3 linked regions of the Homo sapiens genome follow. The protein of the gene in region 1 purifies or fractionates together with the protein of each later gene. This does not show direct contact. Each region holds a gene or a part of one and is shown in the gene's direction. Other genes may lie near its edges.

What was found. Proteins that work in one complex are often made in the same cells at the same time.
Region 2: the proteins of TNS2 (region 1) and SNTB2 purify together in Homo sapiens (affinity purification with mass spectrometry; 4 studies listed by BioGRID and IntAct, with this or other methods). This does not show direct contact.
Region 3: the proteins of TNS2 (region 1) and UTRN purify together in Homo sapiens (affinity purification with mass spectrometry; 4 studies listed by BioGRID and IntAct, with this or other methods). This does not show direct contact.

Annotation. Positions count from the first base shown.
Region 1 is NC_000012.12:53,045,805-53,053,155, forward strand, and holds the start of TNS2 (tensin-2), read left to right. Parts: upstream 1-4,260; 5' UTR 4,261-4,381; coding exon 4,382-4,456; intron 4,457-6,050; coding exon 6,051-6,159; intron 6,160-6,650; coding exon 6,651-6,688; intron 6,689-7,351. UniProt on the Homo sapiens protein: Tyrosine-protein phosphatase which regulates cell motility, proliferation and muscle-response to insulin. Phosphatase activity is mediated by binding to phosphatidylinositol-3,4,5-triphosphate (PtdIns(3,4,5)P3) via the SH2 domain.
Region 2 is NC_000016.10:69,295,164-69,302,163, forward strand, and holds part of SNTB2 (beta-2-syntrophin), read left to right. Parts: intron 1-4,426; coding exon 4,427-4,611; intron 4,612-5,668; coding exon 5,669-5,761; 3' UTR 5,762-7,000. UniProt on the Homo sapiens protein: Adapter protein that binds to and probably organizes the subcellular localization of a variety of membrane proteins. May link various receptors to the actin cytoskeleton and the dystrophin glycoprotein complex.
Region 3 is NC_000006.12:144,484,335-144,491,334, forward strand, and holds part of UTRN (utrophin), read left to right. Parts: intron 1-1,050; coding exon 1,051-1,185; intron 1,186-3,213; coding exon 3,214-3,363; intron 3,364-4,338; coding exon 4,339-4,500; intron 4,501-5,736; coding exon 5,737-5,865; intron 5,866-6,594; coding exon 6,595-6,768; intron 6,769-7,000.

The DNA of each region.
Region 1 (7,351 bases):
TTCCAACCTTCCTTCCCCCCGCCCCTTTTCATCATGGAAAATCCAGCAGGGAGGGTGAAGGAGGGAGAAAGTTTCAGGAAGTGCTCACTGCTAAAGGACGTTGGGGGAATGTAGGAATGGCAACAGGTTCAGAACTTCTAGGAAGATGTCCCCTACCTTATCCCTACCCTCCACCTTCTGCTCCAGGGTGGCACGACTCAAACCTGCCCTACGGCCCATTAGCTCCATTCCATGAAGTTCCTATCCAGTACCAGGCACTGCAAAAGAAGGGAATGAGGTCAGACCATAGAAAGAACTTCCATCTCCATTTGGAAAGGCTGGACTCAAGTTAAATGTAAGGAAGACCTTCTCAGAGGTCTCCTGCGAACTGGGAATGACGGTCCAGCTCTTTAAAATAGGGCAATGGGCCGGGCACGGTGGCTCACGTCTGTAATCCCAGCACTTTGGGAGGCCAAGAAGGGGAAATCGCTTGAGCTCAAGAATTGGAGACCAGCCTGGGCAACATGGCGAAAACCCATCTCTACAAAAAATTAGCTGGGCGTGGCGGCGCCCATCTTGTAGTCCCAGCTACTCGGGAGGCTGAGGTGGGAGGATCGCTTGAGCCTGGGAGGCAGAGGTTGCAGTGAGCCGAGATGGCGCCACTGCACTCCAGCCTGGGCGACAGAGACAGACTCCCGTCTCAATGAATAAAGCAGGGCAGTGGATGGGATGGCTGGAGCTGCTTGCGGGTGGAGATGGGGGCTTGAGCCTGACGGAAAGGTCCCCAGCTGTGAATCCTTTGAGAATACTAGCCCAGGAGAAGTCTCCTGTGGGGCAGAGGACCAGGGAAGGGTGTCCAATGACTTGGGCCAAAAGTAACACCAGGTGTCTTCACCTGATTCAGGCGCCCGCCTGGGTAGGGGACGCTAGCACCACCAGGCTAAGCCACGGGTGGTCCTCTCAGGTCAGGCCCAAGCCCAGGCACACTCCTGTGGGGAGGGTAAGAGGCTGACGCTGCGCGGCAGTTCCCTGTCCCCTTGTTCCTAGTCCCTTCTAGACCTACGCCCACCGTTTCTTCTGCGTCTGTCTGGCTCGCGTGTTTCTTTCTGCCTGTGTCCCGCCGGGTCAGGCTCTCCCCGTCTCTCAGACTTTCCCGTCCCCGTGTCCTCCGCGGCCGTCTCTCTCCAACTCTCTCCCCCTCTCAGCCACTTCCTGTCTCCAGTATGTCCCTGGCGCGGCCCGGCTGGCCGTCTGCGCACCCTCTCTCCCCTCGGCTCTTTGTGAGTGTGGGTTCGCGGGAGAAGGTGGGGAGGAGAGGAGGCCGAGGGGTGGGGAGCTGGCGGAACGTGGGGATTGGAGCCGGGAGGGAGGAGGAGGAGGAGCGGGCTGCCACGGGCGCGGGCGCGGGCGCGGGGCGCGGCGGGGGCGGGAGGGAGCCCAGCCGAGCCCGGCCGCCCGCTCCCGCCACTGCCACCGCCTCCTCCTCCGCGTCCGCTCGGCGCGGGCACGGGCGGGATGGGCTGGCCCGGCGGCTCCCCCTGCTGCTGCCCCGCCCCGCCGCGCCCCCGCCCGGCCGGGCGCCCCCCGCAGGTGAGTGGCCGCGCCGCGCTGGGCGGGCGGCGGTCTCTGCGTCACGGCCGCGCGGGCAGTGCCAGGGGCGGGCGCCAGGGGGCGCGGGGCCGCCGGAGGTCGAGAGGGCGCGGGGCGCGGGGCGCGGCCCAGGGCTGGGGCCGGGGGCTCTGGCTGGCCGCGGAGAGCTGGGAGCAGCGGGAGGCCGGGACAGTGACTAGGGGGCGGGGCGCGGCCGCGGCCCTACTCGATCAGGCCGCCACGCCTTCCAGCACCCGGGGCGCACGGGGCCGCACGCCGTGCCACACACGCAGGCCCGGGACCCGGCAGCAGCTGGCAGCGGCGCTCGGGCCCCGGCCTGGCAGGGTGCGGGCGAACGTTTTCCTTTCCTGCTTCACATGTGGGACAGAGGCCGTAAGCGGGCACAGATGAGGCTGATTCGACTCGCCAGCCCCGCTCTGCGGCCCCCTCCAGTCTGCCCCCATCCTCCAGACCCTTCTGGGAACACCCCCAGAGCCGCCGCCCTCCCTCGCTCCTTCCCTGGGCCTTACCCCTCCTCCGCGGCGGCCGGGCTCCCAGCCTCCCTTCCAACCACAGCTATTTCCAGAAAGGGGGGTGTGGGTGGAGGGGTTTCTCCAAACAAACCCAAGACTTCGGAGAGAGAGGGGGCCCGGCTGGGGGAGAGGTTGACAGGCTCTGGAATGTTACAGGCGGGAGGAGGGTGAGGGTCCAAGAGGGTCTAGTGATGCCTTCCCAGCCCTCCTCAAGTGAGCTACTTTTCCCCTCGGGACTGGCTCATAGGGATCCCATCCCTGCTTCCCTTCCGAGGTGCGAGTGCCACAGGATGGGAGGGACTCACAGCCACAGTGGATCCTGACCACCCCACCCCTCACCGAGCTCACTGCTTGGGCACCTCCTTGCTGGGTCTGGGTGGGGAGTGTGAGACCAGTGAAGGTGAGAGGATGTCTGGGGACCTGTTCCAGGTGAGGGGACTTTCAGCCCCTATGGAGGCAGCAGGAGAGTGAAGCATGTAGAGGAGTCCTGGTCAGGGCCATGTGCCATAGGAGCAGAAGCTGGGACTGGACAGAAAAAAGCCACCCCCACTGCCCACCTTGTCACACTGCCCCATCTCCCCCAAGCAGGGCTGGGGGCTCGACAAGGCCAGGCCCGGTTGCCCACACTGGCCGGGGGCCTGGAATGTGCTGGGACACAGCCAGGCTGGCAGGATGGGGGTGGGTCACAGAGCCCGTGCTCCTCTCCAGTTACAGGCAGGGAGCCCAGGCCTGCCACACAGATGCCACCTTCTGGCCAGGATATCCTGGGGACACATTTCTTGGCCTGGAAAATTGGAGCTTCCAGGGAGAGGTGTCAGGCTAGGCCCAATCCAGTCAGGTCCTCGCAAGGGTCTCAAGTGGGCACCCACAGCAGGCCTCACCCCAGAGAATGCAGGATTCTTCATCCCAGGGAACCCATCCTGGTGGATATGAAGGAGCAGGAAGCAAGTAGAAGGGACTCCGTGGGAGAAGCCAGGGCTGGGGGAGTTGCCTGAGTACTGGGACATTCAATAAATACCATGCAAATGAGAGGGGCACATTTGCACATTCTTTCAAGTGACAGCTATAGCCTGTCCCAGGGGCTGCTGTCCACAGCTTGGGGCTGAAGACTCCCAGGCCATTAACCCCTTAGCTTTTAGGAAGATTACTCCCCCTTTTTCAAGGCCCCATCCACCTCCCTCCCTTGACTCCCAGGACGGGAAGTTGGCCATGTTCCCAGGAGGGAGGCCGGAGGCCCATGGATGGGGGTGGAGTATGTGTTGGGAGGGGGGACCTCCTGTCCAGTCCTCAGGCCCTGGGACAGCTGCTGAGGAAGGAGAGCAGACCCAGGAGAGCCATGAAGGTAGTACTCAGGCTTCGGGGTTGCCGCGGGGGGAGGGTGCAGCCCTTGGGTAGAGAGCCCAAGTTGCAGGGCTGGAAAGAGGGCTAGGGATCTGTGAGATCATGTCTGAAACAAAGCCAGGGAATGGGTGAGTGGGGGGCACTGTGTCAGGAGCAGAAACCTGGGGGCTTTCAGGAGAAGGGCCTCATATGCCTTAGGCTGTGGCAGGAGAATGGATTACTCCCCAAACCTGAGCAAAGCAGTCTTGTGGCTGGAACTTGGCCTTGCAAGGTGTATTGAGGGTAAAGGTGGGCGGTGCATGCTTTCCTTTTCCTACTTCATAACGAGTGAAACTGAGACAGGAAGGGGGCCCCCAGTCCCATTTTTACCTGACTCTCAGGACACACTCGGGATCCTGGGCCTGCCTGCTGGTAGTAGTTCCCAGCTCCACTCCCTCCCCAGCGGAAGTCCCTCGAGAGCTTGAGAGTTCAGGCTGGAGCCTGGCTGGGACACACTGTTCCCCACTTGCCCTTTAGCCCTGCCCCGAGACCAGAATTCTCACCCGGCCCCACCGGGGGTGGGGGCAGAATCTCAAGACCATGGATCCCTGCAGATCCCTGGAGAGTGTGGTGTCCCAGGTGTGGGACAACTCCAGAGTTGGGGGAGTAGGGGGAGCAAAAGATCACAGGCTGACACTCCCAGCAGGGTAGATCCTGGGAATCTGATCTCCTGGCCTCCCCCACATCCTCCCCCCTCCACTTCCTGGAGCAGCGACCTGCCCCCTTCCCGCCTGCACTTCCCTCCACTTCCAGGGCCGGGCTTCTCCTCACACCAGCCAGACAGCCTACCCTCCGCCCAGGGGAAGCGGCTGCCTCCGCCAGGCCGCTTCCAGGAAGCCCCGGGCCAGGCCCCAGCATTGTTCAGGCCCTGGGGCCAGCACCCCAGCCAGCCGAACACCATGAAGTCCAGCGGCCCTGTGGAGAGGCTGCTCAGAGCCCTGGGGAGGAGGGACAGCAGCCGGGCCGCAAGCAGGGTAGGAGTGCCCACCAGCTGGGCAAAAGAGGGGCAGGGGTGGAGGTGCGGGCAGTGGGGGAGGGGACCAGGAATCAGGCCAGGCCTTCTTCCCAATTTCAGCTTCCTCAGCCTTCTTCCCTGGCCCAGCATCCCCTCCGGAGTGGCCAGGGCTGTAGTGTGAGGGGATGTTTGGGTTAGAGTAGGTCCTGCTGTCTGTTTTGGCTCCTCTCACCTTCCCTGCTCTAGCCTGGGCCAACCCCAGGAGGTCCTGGCCCCCCAACATAAGCCCCAGGTGCCTCACTGCAGGACTTTGCCATGCGCTATCCAGGTATCCTCCAGCAGGCTCAGAGATCATCAGGCCCCTTCCCTGGCCCAGGGAAGTTTGAGGGAAATGGGGTGGCAGGGTGGAAAAAGAGAGAGGAGAGGGAGTCAGGAGTGCTTTGGAACTGGAGGTTTGCTTTCCACTGACAACATCCATATCTGCTGCTAATGCCAACATGCTCCCAAGTGTCTTAGTGGGTCCCACAAAGTTGATCCAGCCCAGAAGAGTTGCAGGGACAGTCAAGAAACCAGAGGTGCTGCCCACATCCCCATCACTCCCTTTCCCAACTTCCCAGCCTTGCCCCAAAAGCAGCAGCTCAGGACAACCTGAGATACTACTGTGATGGGTCCCCGGGAGGAGGACAGCAGGAGTCTGAACTCCAGAGGAGGGGGAATATGGGTAAAACAGAGAGATGGCAAGGAGACAAGCTGTCCCCAGACAGAGGATGGGAGGAGAGAACCCACAGTGGGAGGGGAAGGGACTGAGATAGGCCTGGGCCATAAGGGGGCATCCCAGGCTCCTGCCTCACTGCATCTCTGGGTCAGGAGGGGCTGAACAGGGAATCTGGTCCACTCCTTTCTCATTCAATGCGTGAATCCCAAGTGCCAGGGTGCAGGGGGTCGGGGGAGAACTCACAGCATCCAAAGCCAGCTAAACATCTCTCCCCAGTGACAGGCTTCTATCTGTTTCCCTCCAGCATGACCACCCCCATTACACAATTGCTGTCTGCTGCCTCAGTGCACAATGAGTAAACATGTTGTTCTGACCGTGGGGGAGGAGGGCATGTCAGCTGCCTGGAGCGTGGGGACAGCAGGAGCTAAAGGAGCAGGACTGGCTGAGGCCACTCCTGCCGGCTCAGTCTGGTGCTGCAGGACTGACATACAACACATATGTTTGGAACCTCCCTGCTCACTCTGCACACAGGTCTCCATGCGGGGAGGACAAGATGGGAAGAGTCAGGGAGTACCCTTACCACACCAGGGGGAAAGCCTGAGCATGGAGGCTTTTCCACAAGGGCATCACACACCAGGGCCATGTGAGGGGCCCAAGTGATCCCCTGGGGAGGAGCTGACCCAGCAAAGGTGACGCAAGGGGTCAGATTCCATGCACAGTTGAGGACAGGCCCCATGACCGCCCTGAAGCAGCTGTGGCCAAGTGCGTCCTACAAGTTTGAGGGCTTGATCTGGACGGAGAAAACCAGTGCAGTGCTAAGGCAAGGCTCCTGCCCAGTCCCGGAGATGGAGATGGGCCCACTGGGAACTCACACCTCTGTTTGTCCCTCCACCTTCAGCCTAGGAAAGCTGAGCCTCATAGCTTCCGGGAGAAGGTTTTCCGGAAGAAACCTCCAGTCTGTGCAGTATGTAAGGTGACCATCGATGGGACAGGCGTTTCGTGCAGAGGTGAGGCTCTCTGTCCTGTGACTCTGAGACCCTCCACCCAGTACCACTGTGTTGCACAACTCCAGCAGGCCAGCTCACACAATCTCAAATGTAATATGCTGCTCCTGGATTAGGCACAATGGCAGCTAAGAAGCAGCTGCCTCCCCCTTCAGATGGCCCTGGCTCCCCATGACAGACACCTCCCATAACCCAGGAGAGCCAGTACTCTCCATCACCTTCCCATCCTGACTTGTGACGGTAGTCTTCCTTCCCTCTCTTCCTCCTCACCTCCACCCACCCTGGAACGTTACCCCTGGCCTGGGCAGTAGTACCCCACTGCCACACTCTTCCCTCAAAACCTAGCCCTGCTCCTCTGCCCCAGCCAGCCCAGTCCAGGTGGGATCTTGGAAGTCCCAGGGTCTGGTTCCAGGGTCTGGGAGATGAGGGAAGGCCATTCCTTCCACTGTCCCACAGGCCCCTGCTAACCCCTCTCCTCCCCTTACCTTCCCTAGTCTGCAAGGTGGCGACGCACAGAAAATGTGAAGCAAAGGTGGGTATCTGATTCTACCTGATAGGGGGAGAGGGTCTGGAGTCCCTTCCTCCTCCCAAACAGGCTTCTGCAACCACACTGGCATCAACCCTCCACCTCCACCCCTCTCACCACTGGGGAACCCCTCCTGGGTGGGAGGGGTGCTGTACTGGGCCCTTTAAGAACCACCCTACTCCGCCTTCTGGAGGGCTGGCCAGCCCAGGCGGGTGGACAGCAAGACAGCGTTTGTCTTGGTGCTGTGCCCAGACTGCAGCTGGCGAGAGGATGGGGGTGGGGAAGAGGAGGAGAATGAGGAGGAGGAAGGGTGGGGTGGGTGGGGAGTGGGGGAGCAGGATTTCAGAGACTGGGCAGCCGGATGGGCTGTGCCTTCCCTCTGGGGAAGGGTCCTCAAAATGCCTGGGCGGGTCTTGTCCTGGGCCCTGGAAAAACTGGGCCTTTCCAGGTATAAGCTGTGGATAGCACCCACTGTCCACTGGGGACCTGAGACAGCCCTGTCTCTGAAGAGGTCCCCTGGTCCTCTTCCTTCAGGACAGGGGGAGGAGGATCCCAGGGCCCTGGAGCTGGCTTGGGGGAGCTGTGTGCCCAGGGGCGGGGTCTCCCGGTGAAAGAAGCCAGTGTCCATCCCTGGCCATGGCCTGCCTGCTTGGCTCTATATATAACTCC
Region 2 (7,000 bases), on another chromosome or scaffold:
GTGCTGCTATTGTGTGTCTTTTTCTATTTCTGGTAACAACCCTGTTAAACAAAATCAACATACTGAATTTTTTTTTTTTTTTTTTTTTTTTTTTTTTTGAGACAAAGTATTGCTCTGTCTGCCAGGCTGGAGTACAGTGGCCCGATCTTGATCTCTGCTCACTACAACCTCTGCCTCCCAGGTTCAAGGAATTCTCCTGCCTCAGCCTCCCGAGTAGCTGGGACTACAGGCGTCTGCCACCACTCCCGGCTAATTTTTGTATTTTTAGTAGAGACAGGGTTTCACCATATTGGCCAGGCTGGTGTCGAACTCCTGACCTTGTGATCCACCCGCCTTGGCCTCCCAAAGTGCTGGGATTACAGGCGTGAGCCACCGCGCCCAGCCAACATACTGAATTTTTTACTGACTTATCTATAAATTGGAGTGCATAGTGGACACATAGCCATCCAAAAGCATTCTAAGTGAACCAAGACATAATGAGCCACCTGCAACAGCTCCATTAATAAGTCCCAGATGCTATCCCGTCAGAAAAGGGCCACTCCTCTTACTAAATGGGGAATTTATACTGAAAAAAAAAAAAAAGCCACTTCTCATACACACACACATAGCTGTTAAATCAGAATGAAAGGCTTATTTCCCCTATCTCCCTTTGGTTCATTACTCCTAAAAGGGTAAGGGGTGTCAGGCACTTAATCATCATTGCATCACTGTGGTGTGATGTACTCAATGTTTAGAGAAAAACTGTTTAATTGGTTCGATTTGGCACAGCATTTACATGACCAGGTCACAGTCTCATTCAGAAGAATCTGGTATTAATTATACATTTTAAACTATGGCCGGGTGTAGTGGCTCATGCCTGTAATCCCAGCATTTTAGGAGGCCGAGGCGGGTGGATCACCTGAGGTCGGGAGTTCGAGACCAGCCTGACCAACATGGAGAAACCCCATCTCTACTAAAAATACAAAAAATTAGCCAGGCGTGGTGGCGCAGGCCTTAATCCCAGCTACTTGGGAGGCTGAGGCAGGAGAATTGCTTGAACCCAGGAGGCAGAGGTTGTGGTGAGCTAAGATCACGCCATTACACTCCAGCCTGGGTGACAAGAGTGAAACTCCGTCTCAAAAAAAAAATTTTTTTTAAACTAAAACAAGCTCAATATCTAGACCTAAATACATTAAGTTTGACACACACACACAGAATCACACACAGTCACATTTGCTTTCCATTCTTTCCTTCTCCAGGGGAAACAATCCAAAACAGAACATTTAAGAAATCTCAGGCCGGTCGCGGTGGCTCATGCCTGTAATCCCAGTACTTTGGGAGGCCGAGGCGGGTGGATTACCTGAGGTCAGGAGTTTGAGACCAGCCTGGCCAACATGGTGAAACCCTGTCTCTACTAAAAATACAAAAAATCAGCCAGGCCTGGTGGCACATGCCTGTAATCCCAGCTACTCGGGAGGCTGAGGCAGGAGAATTGCTTGAGCCCAGGAGACGGAGGTTGCAGTGAGCCGAGATCATGCCACTGCAGTGCAGCCTGGCCGACAGAGAGACTCTGTCTCAAAAAAAAAAAAAAGAAAAAAGAAATCTCAGGGGCCAAGCACTTTGGGAGCCCAAGGTGGGCAGATCACGTGAGGTCAGGAGTTTGAGACCAGCCTGGCCAACATAGTGAAATCCCTGTCTCTACTAAAACTACAAGAATTACCTGAGTGTGGTGGTAAACACCTGTAATCCCAGCTACTCGGGAGGCTGAGGCATAAGAATCATTTGGGAGGTGGAGGTTGCAGGGAGCCGAGGTTGCGCCATTGCCCTCCAGCCTGCATGACAGAGTGAGACTCTTATCTCAAAAAAAAAAAAAAATCTCAGGCCAGGTGCCGTGCCTCACACCTGTAATCCCAGCACTTTGGGAGACCGAGGCAAGTGGGTTGCCTGAGCTCAGGAGTTCAAGACCAGCCTGGGCAAGATGGCAAAACCCCGTCTCTACTAAAAAATACAAAAAATTAGCTGGGTGTGGTGGTGCCCGCCTGTAATCCCAGCTACTCAGGAGGCTAAGGCATGAGAATTGCTTGAACCCGGGAGGCAGAGGTTGCAGTCAGCTGAGATTGCGCCAGTGCACTCCAGTCTAGGTGACACAGCAAGATTCTATCTCAAAAAAAAAAAAAAAAAAAAAAAAAAAAGGAGGCCGGGCACGGTGGCTCATGCCTATAATCCCAGCACTTTGGGAGGCCAAGGCGGGCAGATCACAAGGTCAGGAGTTTGAGACCAGCCTGACCAACATGGTGAAACCCTGTCTCTACTAAAAATACATAAATTGGCCTAGTGTGGTGGCACGCTCCTGTAATCCCAGCTACTCAGGAGGTTGAGGCGGGAGAATTGCTTCAACCTGGGAGGCAGAGGTTGCAGTGAGCCAAGATCACGCCACTGCACCAGCCTGGGAGACAGAGCGAGACTCTGTCTCCAAAAAAAAAAAGAAGCCATGTGCAATGGCTCACGCCTATAATCCCCACACTTTGGGAGGCCGAGGTGGATGGATCCCTTGCAGTCAGGAGTTCAAGACCAACCTGGCCAACGTGGTGAAACCCTGTCTCTACTAAAAATGCAAAAAAATTAGCCGGGCGTGGTGGTGTACATCTGTAATCCCAGCTACTCAGCAGGCTGAGGCAGAAGAATTGCTTGAGCCCAGGAGGGTGAGGTTGCAATGAACCGAGATCACGCCACTGCACCCCAGCCTGGGTGACAGAAGGAGATTCCATCTCAAAACAAACAAAAAAAAGAATCTCTAAATCTCTCTTTTTAAAATTGTTTAGACATTGCTCTGTCACCCAGGCTAGAGTGCAGTGGCATGATCATAGCTCACTGCAGCCTTGAACTCCTGGACGCAAGTGATCCTCCCACCCCAGCCTCCTGAGTAGCTGGGACTATAGGCACACACCACCATGCCCAGATACATTTTTTATTTTTATAGAAATGAGATCTTGCCATGTTACCCAGGCTGTTCTCTAGCGCCTGGCCTCAAGTGATCCTCCTGCCTCCTGCCTTAGCCTCCCAGAGTGCTGGGATTGTAAGCATGACCCACCACACCTGGGGCATTTGCCAGTCTTGATGACCAAAATTGTTTGTATCCTGTCAATTCAGAGGTGTCCTTTGAATTGTATCTTTGATAGCGTTGACTGTGACTTTTGCTGAGTATAGCCTTTAACTTTGATGAACATAATCTTTATCTTCATCCCAAATGCCAACCAAACCATGTCACGGCTCCTGAAAGGCCTCTCTGCCTTTGCTCCTTTGGTTGGTCCTTCTTGCCCAGTTCAGTCCTTCTGCCTCTTCCTCCCTGCCTGTCCAGTTTTACCAATTCTTTTTTTTTTTTTTTTTTTTTTTTTTGAGACAGTGTCTCGCTCTTGTCACCCAGGCTGGAGTGCAGTGGCGTGATTTCATCTCACTGCAACCTCTGCCTCCCAGGTGCAAGCAGTTATCCTGCCTCAGCCTCCCAAGTAGCTGGGATTACAGGCATGTGCCACCATGGCTGGCTAATTTTTGTATTTTTAGTAGAGACGGGGTTTCGCCATGTTGGCCAGGCTAGTCTCTAACTCCTGACCTCAAGTGATCCGCCCACCTCGACCTCCCAAAGTGCTGGGATTACAGGTGTGAGCCACCGTACCCGGCCAGTATTACCAATTCTTTAGGGCCTATCTGAAGGCCCATCTCCTCCAGGAAACCTTTTCTTGACTTTGGCCTCATTCACTTTGGTGTTTGCTCATGTTCTGTACATTCTGCCTTACACAATTGGGGATTTCCTGTCTATGCCAATGAGTTTACAAAGTCCTTGAGAGCAGGGACTGTGCCTCTTACTTCTCTAGTGCCTTGCACAGCCTACACACACTTGCCAGTATGAGTGTTCAGTGGGTACTCGAGGAATTAAATCGAACAGATGTCAAGGAGTGTTATGGTCATTTCTGCCTCATCTCAGTGACCAAAACAAAACACACTTCTTTTTTTTTTTTTTTTGAGACAGTCTTGCTCTGTCGCCCAGGGTGGAGTGCAGTGGTGCAATCTTGGCTCACTGCAACGTCCGCCTCCCGGGTGCAAGCAATTCTCCTGCCTCAGCCTCCTGAGTAGCTGGGATTACAGGCACCCGCCACCACACCCAGCTAATTTTTATATTTTTAGTAGAGACGGGGTTTCACCATGTTGGTCAGGCTGGTCTCAAACCCCTGACTTTGCGATCCGCCTGCCTCGGCCTCCCAAAGTGCTGGGATTACAGGCGTGAGCCACCACGCCTAGCACAAAACACACTTTAGAAGTTTCCATACAGGTTAGGTATCACACATTCTCAAGAAAATATTTTTCCTATTTTGAAGTCAGAAGATTCCCTTTTCACTTGATAACTGACATAGCAACTTTACAACTAATGTTTTTTGCTTTTCTTCAACAGGCTGCATGTTAAATGGCCAAGAGGTGAGGCTTACTATTCACTATGAAAATGGGTTCACCATCTCAAGGGAAAATGGAGGCTCCAGCAGCATATTGTACCGCTACCCCTTTGAAAGGCTGAAGATGTCTGCTGATGATGGCATCCGAAATCTATACTTGGATTTTGGTGGTCCCGAGGGAGAACTGGTAAGAGTGTTTCTGAAACACATGTTTATCTAATAGATGTTCTCTTTCCTTCTCATTACTTCTTACCCCTTATATACAAAGTCATGGACTGACATTCCATTTAGAACCATGAAATTTTAAATTAAAAAAAATTTTTTTAAAGATGGGGTCTCTGTCACCCAGGCTGGAGTGTAGTGGTGCAATCATAGCTTCCTGCAGCCTATACCTTCTGGGCTCAAGTGATCCTCCCACCTCAGCCTCCTGAGTAACTGGGACTGGACTATAGGTGTGTGCCACCATGCCTGGCCAATTTTTTATATTCTTTATAGAGATGAGGTCTCGCTTTGCTGCCCAGGATGGTCTTGAACTCCTGGCTTCAAGTGATCTTCCCATCTTGGCCTCCCAAGGTGTTGAGATTACAGGTGTGAGCCACTGTATCTGCTCTTCTTCAGTTTTCAAGATGGCATTGGGTGTTGGTTTTTGTTGCCGTCATTTTTCTTTTTTTTTTCTTTTTTGAGACGGAGTCTCGCTTTGTCGCCCAGGCTGGAGTGCAGTGGCACCATCTCAGCTCACTGCAACCTCTGCCTCCCTGGTTCAAGCAATTCTGCTGCCTCAGCCTCCCGAGTAGCTGAGATTACATGCACGTGCCACCATGCCTGGCTAATTTTTCGTATTTTTAGTAGAGATGGGGTTTCACCGTGTTAGCCAGGATGGTCCCAATCTCCTGACCTCATGATCTGCCCGCCTCAGCCTCCCAAAGTGCTGGGATTATGGGCGTGAGCCACCGTGCCTGGCCTTAGATTTTAAATCCTCTACTATTTAGTTCTTCCTACCAGGCATGGTGAAACCCAGTACACCACCAGTTGTCTCCTAATTGGGGATGTGAAACCTCACACCAGTATTATGACATGGAATAACCTTACTCCATAGTGCACTTTTGCCTGTGGCTTTAAGTTCCTAAGAGTTTCCATAGCTCTGGCACATTCTTTACCTACCTTAAATTTATTTTGCATCTTCGTTTATTAAGTTGTCTGTATATGGTAGTGAGGTAGTGATGCTTAGTGTCCTTTCTCCACAGACCATGGACCTGCACTCTTGTCCGAAGCCGATTGTATTTGTGTTGCACACGTTTTTATCGGCCAAAGTCACTCGTATGGGACTGCTTGTATGAGCAACAAAAAATCAGAAAAGAGCCTTGACTGTCACAAGAAATATTTCCACCTCAAAAAAAAAAAAGCACAAAAAGAAACTCTTTGCTCTCCTTCAGCACAGTGCCTTCCCAAGGACCTGCAAATAACTGCTGAACCATAACCGTGTTTAAAGAAGAGCCTACCTTTCACAGTCTACCTTGGCCAGATATTCTAGCACTCTAAAAGGCTCCAAAATGAAGCTGTTGATTTATTCTCATTTCAAAATATGGTTTATGAGTAATTAGGTTTATTTCTACTGCTAAAAAGAATGGCTCATTGTTTTCTTTTTTTTTCATTGTTTTCATTTTTAGACATAATCAAATACCCAAGCATTGTTTTCTTTTTCTTCTCCCTGTAGGATTTGTGTTGTGCTTAGCCTTGATCTCTTGTTCAGAACAATTGTCCCTTCCCAGGTGCTAGCTTGCAGCAGCCTGTTGCTTCCTGAGCATTCCAGATAGGTCGTATGTCTTGGAATTTACTGTCCTCACTAGCTCCTTCCACCATAGGAAGTCCTTGAATTGTATCACCAAAGGGTTGTTCCATTTGCCCTGGATCTCCCTCTATCTCAGCCTGGCCATCACTTCCCACCTTATCCCAAGCTTTGCCACTGTCTCTAGGACTTAGAACTTGTAAATTTGATTTGCCTTGCCTTCTACTTCCTTTCTAGTGGTGACTGAGTTGAAAAGCAAGTTGGAAGCCACTGCTTTTAAAGAAAAGTTTTGCTTGGTTTAGGTTTTTCCAATTTTATTTTTGTTAGGAGCCAGGGGATAAGATTTATTTTAAATGAAAATCCTCTTCCTAGGTTAAGCCATTTTTTTTATTGCTTACCAAATGTGCCTTTGGTTAGGGTTAGTGGAGCTTTATTAGTCACTATTTGAATAACTGGAAATCACTGCCATTTCCAGGAGATCACCTATCCTAGTTTTGAGGAATAGTCATTGAGGTGGGTTTCCTTAATGGCATCTCTTCTAGTAGGCAGATCTGTTTGAACAAGATAAATCCTAAAGAGCCAGCCTGCTTGAGGAGTAGACTTGGTGGGTGAAGCCAGCAATTCCGCACAAACGTCATGTTGAATTGTTTTGGGCTGCCCAAAAACAACAGGATGCAGCATCCTGGCTGTGGCCTGGCCCTTTGTGGCAGCAGTGGCATGGACAAGCAACTGCTAATTCGAGACTTACTATTGGCTTCACAGCACACCCTACAGTGAGCAGGGTGATGAG
Region 3 (7,000 bases), on another chromosome or scaffold:
GAATTGGGTGGGGCCCAGGAGATTTCAATTTTCTATGAAATTATTTTTTAAAAATTTACAATTGGGAGCAATTTTTTCATTTTGTTCAAAAACCAAACTTTTTTTTTTTTTTTTTTTTTTTTTTTGAGATGGAGTTTCACTCTTGTTACCCAGGCTGGAGGGCAGTGGCGTGGCCTGGGCTTACTGTAACCTCTGCCTCCCAGGTTCAAGTGATTCTCCTGCCTCAGCCTCCCGAGTAGCTGGGATTACAGGTGCCTGCCACCATGCCCAGCTAGTTTTTGTATTTTTAGTAGAGATGGGGTTTCACCATGTTGGCCAGGCTGGTCTTGAACTCCTGACCTCATGTGATCCACCTGCCTTGGCCTCCCAAAATGCTGAGATTACAGGTGTGAACCACCGCACTTGGTCTTTAAAAAACAAACTAAATAATGTTTCTCTCCTGTTTTTCTTACTAATTATATAGTTCTATTTTTGACATTTAAATCAGATCATGGAATTTATTTTAAAGAGTGAGGCAGCCTCTTGCCCACTCTTTGCTCCCCACCCTTCACCAACTGGTCTCATATGATTTTGTTGATTATTTTATTTTATTTTATTTGAGATGGAGTCTTGCTCTGTTGCCCAGGCTGGAATGCAGTGGTGCAATCTCAGCTCACCGCAACCTCCGCCTCCCGGGTTCACGCCATTCTCCTGCCTCCTCCAGAGTAGCTGGGACTACAGGCATCCGCCACCACACCCGGCTAATATTTTTATATATATATATATATTTTTAGTAGAGACAGGGTTTCACCGTGTTAGCCAGGATGGTCTTAATCTCCTGACCTCATGATCTGCCTGCTTCAGCCTCCCAAAGTGCTGGGATTACAGGCGTGAGCCACCACGCCTGGCCGATTTTATTTTATTTTTTTGAAGTTTCAACTCCATCAGTTCTGAATTCCTAGGTATACTCACATCCAAATGAAATTATTAGCGATTAAAGAGAATGTGTAGTACTAGAGATACGATGTGTGAAATGGCTTTTTGTCTAATTTAAAATTTTTCATGCTTTAGGAGGTCTGGTCTTGTTGGATTGAACTGCTTCACTATTTGGATCTTGAAACTACCTGGTTAAACACTTTGGAAGAGCGGATGAAGAGCACAGAGGTCCTGCCTGAGAAGACGGATGCTGTCAACGAAGCCCTGGAGGTTGGAACCCGTGATCTCCACGGCATTTCTCTTTGCTGTGATGAGGCCACACGTGTATTACAATGAGGAATGTAATGCTTTACGCAGGCAAATGCATTTGCTTCCTCAGTGGTTTTCAATGTCACTTGCATTTTCTTCCATAGCCTGAAGTGTTTATACAATCATGTGTATTTAGATTATTGGTGACCCATTATATCAGCCTCAAGACGTGGTTAGCTGTTTGACATCTTACATTTTAGACATGTTGAAGCACTCTAGTGGTTTTCCAGTTTATTTTAGTAGGCCCTGGACAAAGCTCTGCCATATGTTATTAGGACAACTGCTCTCTTGTTTCATCAACAAGTTATTTTTACTCACTAAACACAGCACTGACAGTTTATAGGGGATTCCTGTCTCTTACCTTCAGATGCTAGAAGTTAAGACAGTGGTTGAGCCATGGGATCTTGTCGTAGGAGCTTGTCTTCAAGCCTGGATTTGAACTCCTTGAGGCCAAGAAATGTACCCGATGCTTTGTTATTCCTCAGTTCCCAGCACAGTGTGTAGCACATGTTAACTTAATAACCGTTTCTTAAATGAAATACAGTGCAAAGAGGGTAGGTTTGCTTAACAAAAAAGAAAAGGGAAGGGGGTAGATAGGCTTTTAAAAATGTCATGGTACCATGTGGGAACTGAGTGGACAACTGGATTAAAGGTCAGAAATGAGTAAAATGTGGCACTTACATTCCAGGAGACGGATGCTCTGCTAGAGAAAAGATGTCACTTCTCAAATATAGCAGAGTGAGAGACAGAGTGAATGAAAAATATGAAAAGCTTAATTTTTTTCCTAATGTAAGAGTGAATACGTATATATTCTTGAAATATGGAAAATAAAGAAAAGTATAAAGCAAACTCTAAGATAAACATTTTAAAACAGTTTGTAGATTTCTTCCTAATTATTATCTTTTATGTATGCATACTAGAAGGTAGTATATTGGATCAAAGGCTTTGGAGTCTTTTATTTACTTATTTATCTTTTTATTTGAGATGGAATCTTGCTATGTTGCCCAGGCTGGAGTGCAATTGCATGATTTTGGCTCACTGCAACCTCCACCTCCTGAGTTCAAGCAATTCTCATGCCTCAGCCTCCTGAGTAGCTGGGATCACAGGCGTGTGCCACTACCCCAGCTAATTTTGTATTTTTAGTAGAGATGGGGTTTTACCATGTCGGCCAGGCTGGGCTCGAACTCCTGACATCAGGTGATCCACCCGCTTCGGCCTCCCAATGTGCTAGGATTAGAGGTGTGAGCCATCGCACTTGGCCAGGCTTTGGAGTCTTAAAGCTTTAGAGCCATGTTGGAATCTTAGCTCTTCTTTTGACTGTGTGTATGTAGGCAAGTAATTTAACCTTTCTGAGCTTCAATTTTCCAATCTGTAAACTGGGAATGCTATTTAGCCCATATGGTTAATTAGATTTATGTATATAAAAAGTGTGTATATAAAACAATGCCTCTTATTCTGCATATATTGTAGGAAAATGACTACTTATTTTTAGTAATATAATTAATAAAAGTTGAGATCATTTTGCTTGTATAGTACTGTTCTCTGCCTTTGAACTTTGTGTCATGAGCATTTCCCCATATAATTAATAATTATTTTTAACTTTTTATTATTCATTTATTTATTGTTTAGAGACATAGTCTCGCTCTGTTGCCCAGGCTGGAGTCCAGTGGTATGACAGCTCACTGCAGCCTTGAACTCTTGGGCTCAAGTGATCCTCCTGCCTCACCCTCCCATAATTAATAATAGTTGAAATTATTTTTGTGAAATTATATCATATATCACTTGTGCTAATTTCTCAATTTTATGCATTTTTTAATCCCATGATGGATATTTTTGTGAATTAGTAATTTACTTAACTTTTGGTCCTGTTACTTAGGTAGATTTTTAGAAAATATAATTACTTGTTTAACAAATAGACATTTTGGGGATCCTTGATACCTTTTGCCTTAGTAAATGCATTATTATTTTTTTTTCCCATCTCCATTCCAGTCTCTGGAATCTGTTCTGCGCCACCCGGCAGATAATCGCACCCAGATTCGAGAGCTTGGCCAGACTCTGATTGATGGGGGGATCCTGGATGATATAATCAGTGAGAAACTGGAGGCTTTCAACAGCCGATATGAAGATCTAAGTCACCTGGTAAGAGTTGGGACATACATGGGTGTTGATTAGGTATTGATGAAGTGGAGCTGGCCCTAAGCTCCATATCATAGAGCTTTAATGTTGGAAAAATCTTTAATGTTGGTTAAAGTTGGTAACCAATGCTAACAGGGGCATTGAGGGTATTGAAATATTCAGAAAGGAAGAATAGATCTAACACTCTAAGACAGAACTGGATGATTAAAAAAATTATTTTTGAGATTACTTCTACTTACAAACATTTAATTTTCATTAAGGATCATATGATAGCTGTATATAAGAACAACAACTCATACTATCCTAGTAAATATTAGGGCCATGATATTTCACATAAGCTGCTGTGAAAGCCATAGTCTCTTAGTTCATATCCAGGTTGTAACATACATATTCGTATCACAAATTAGAGAAAGAACATTTCTTTTATAGGAAGGTTGGGTATGAATATTAGGTGCTTCCAAACACATATTAAATAATAACTGTTGATGTTCAGCCCATGAATAACATCAAGCTTAACCCAAAAGTGCTGTAAATAGTAGTTTGATATGTATGTACACCTATAGAATTTGTTTTAGGCTTTGGAAAAAAAGAGACTCTGATGTTTGTGTATTGATAGACATTTTTCTTATGTTTTATATTCTTAATTGGCAGACATTGCTGATTCCTAAAAATGCTTTAAAATTATAATAAATAACACATTTTTATCTTCTGTTTAATGCATCTTATGGGAAACCTTTACATTTTTGTATTTCAACATTATATATAGAAAGAAGTAATAATTAGTAATTCAGCTGCATGGTACATAAGATCCTAGTGGGACATTTTCACTGTTATCATTAGTAATTATTATTTATTTATAAAGAAAGCTAAAGTCTTGGATGAAAGCTTTTATGGTCTTTTCTTAGTGGCCAGAATATATATATTCTGCTATTTATATTTGTGTTGGGCAACTAATGATTCAATTTCTCCTTTGTGCAGGCAGAGAGCAAGCAGATTTCTTTGGAAAAGCAACTCCAGGTGCTGCGGGAAACTGACCAGATGCTTCAAGTCTTGCAAGAGAGCTTGGGGGAGCTGGACAAACAGCTCACCACATACCTGACTGACAGGATAGATGCTTTCCAAGTTCCACAGGAAGCTCAGGTATTGCCGTGCATTTGAGGGCTTTTGAGCTGTAAAGAGAGCTTTTGTAATTGCCTCCTCAACTATAAGAGAACCCCTCCTGCTCTCCAAAACCGAGAGTCAATGGGAAAGATTGACCTTACTTACAGGGCAGCATTTGGGTTTTGGAGTTCTCTTGCTTTCTATGTGAGACTCTGGCAAAAGTCTTATATAGTTTATTTTATTTTATTTTATTTTATTTTATTTATTTATTTGAGACAGAATCCCACTATGTCACCCAGGCTGGAGTGCAGTGGCACGATCTTGGCTCACTGCAACCTCCGCCTCCTGGGTTCAAGTGACTCTCCTGCCTCAGCCTCCCGAATAACTGGGACTACAAGCACGCGCCACCACGCCCGGCTAATTTTTTGTAGTTTTAGTAGAGACGGGGTTTCGCCATGTTGGCCAGGCTGGTCTTGAACTCCTGACTTCAAGTGATCTGCCTGCCTCGGCCTCCCAATAATTTTTGTATTTTTAGTAGAGACGGGGTTTTGCCATATTGTCCAGGCTAGTCTCAAACTCCTGACTTCAGGTGATCCACCTTCCTCGGCCTCCCAAAATGCTGGGATTACAGGCGTGAGCCACTGTGCCTGGCTGAAAAGTCCTGTATATTTTAAATTGTAGTTTTCTTAGCTGTGAAGTTGGGACAATTCCTTCCTTATAAATAAGTTGTGAACATTAGAAACGACAAATGCAAAGCCCTTAGCAGGTGCGTCATGTACAATAGTCATACCATGCAGTGGGCCATATTATTATTATTATACAAAAACGTATTATTATTATTTTTTAGACGGATTCTCACTCTGTTGCCCAGGCTAGAGTGCAGTGGCGCGATCTCGGCTCACTGCAAACTCTGCCCCACAGGTTCAAGCAATTCTCCTGCCTCAGCCTCCCGAGTAGCTGGGATTATAGGCGCCCGCCACCGTGCCCAGCTAATTTTTGTATTTTTAGTAGAGATGGGGTTTCACCATCTTGGCCAGGCTGGTCTTGAACTCCTGATGTCGTGATCCACCCGCCTCGGCCTCCCAAAGTGTTGGGATTACAGGCATAAGCCACCGCACCTGGCCTACAAAAACTTATTAAAGCTTCTGTGGAGGTCAACATTATGTAAAATACGATATCATGTATTACACAACGATATAGAACTTTTGTATTGTCTCTTTTTATACTTAAGTAAAAAAAAAAGGACATCCTCTCCCCTTTCCAATCTCTTTTTAGAAAATCCAAGCAGAGATCTCAGCCCATGAGCTAACCCTAGAGGAGTTGAGAAGAAATATGCGTTCTCAGCCCCTGACCTCCCCAGAGAGTAGGACTGCCAGAGGAGGAAGTCAGATGGATGTGCTACAGGTAAAGAAGGCCAGGAGCTTCCTTTTACTTTTCAACTTGTTGGGAATTTTCTTCAAAAAAGAGAAAGAATTGATTACTTGGGCACCGTTTGTATTCTTTGTGATGTAAACCATGGGATGGGAGTGATGATGTGTTGAAGGTTGCATCCTAGGGCAGCAGAAACAAATTGTTGCATGTGTGGAAAAATATGAAATCTGATTTTGATAGCTGAGATGAGAAACAAGAGAGTGAGCCAGATTTAGAAGTTAGCTTTATATACACTTTTTCTTTAATGCAGAGCCTCTGTCAGTATCGTGTGGCTGATGCTGTGGGCAGGCCGAGCATGAATTGGATGCAGCATCATTTAGTTCTTTCATGGTTGATATGACATTGACTTTCACTCTGAACTTGTGATGAAGGGCATTTTGAGTTCTAGGTTCCTGAACTATCTTTTTGAACATGAAGTTTTAATTCCAGTGAGGTCAGCTTTATCTAAATTTCTTATCCAAATCTATTACTTCTGAGATTGAGACACTGAGTGTTGTAATTTTTGACACTGGGCTATGCAGTTCACTTAGGTGATCGGGTACCCTCACTGAGATTCATTAGGAGTTTTTTATTTTGGGTCATATTTCTGAATTTTTTTCTTTTGGTACTTTATGGTACAAATTTTTAGTAGTATCTGTTATGCTCATGATGAGAGAGATAATCATCCTGATGGGAATTGCATATTTTCATTTCTGCAAACAGAGGAAACTCCGAGAGGTGTCCACAAAGTTCCAGCTTTTCCAGAAGCCAGCTAACTTCGAGCAGCGCATGCTGGACTGCAAGCGTGTGCTGGATGGCGTGAAAGCAGAACTTCACGTTCTGGATGTGAAGGACGTAGACCCTGACGTCATACAGACGCACCTGGACAAGTGTATGGTGAGGCTTTTGGGTGATTGGCACATCCAGTGGCTTTTTCAGCAGCTGTTATGGCTTGGTCTAGCAAGTACATGCCTAGTGTGTCCAGTGATCACTAGTCTACAGTGTGCTAAACATAAGGATTGATGATGGAAAACGTGTTAAAAAATAAGAAGTGTGGTCTTTCCCTCCAAAGAAATTAGAAGAGATAAGAGAGATAGCTAAGGAAACTAGAATAGACATGTATATAACA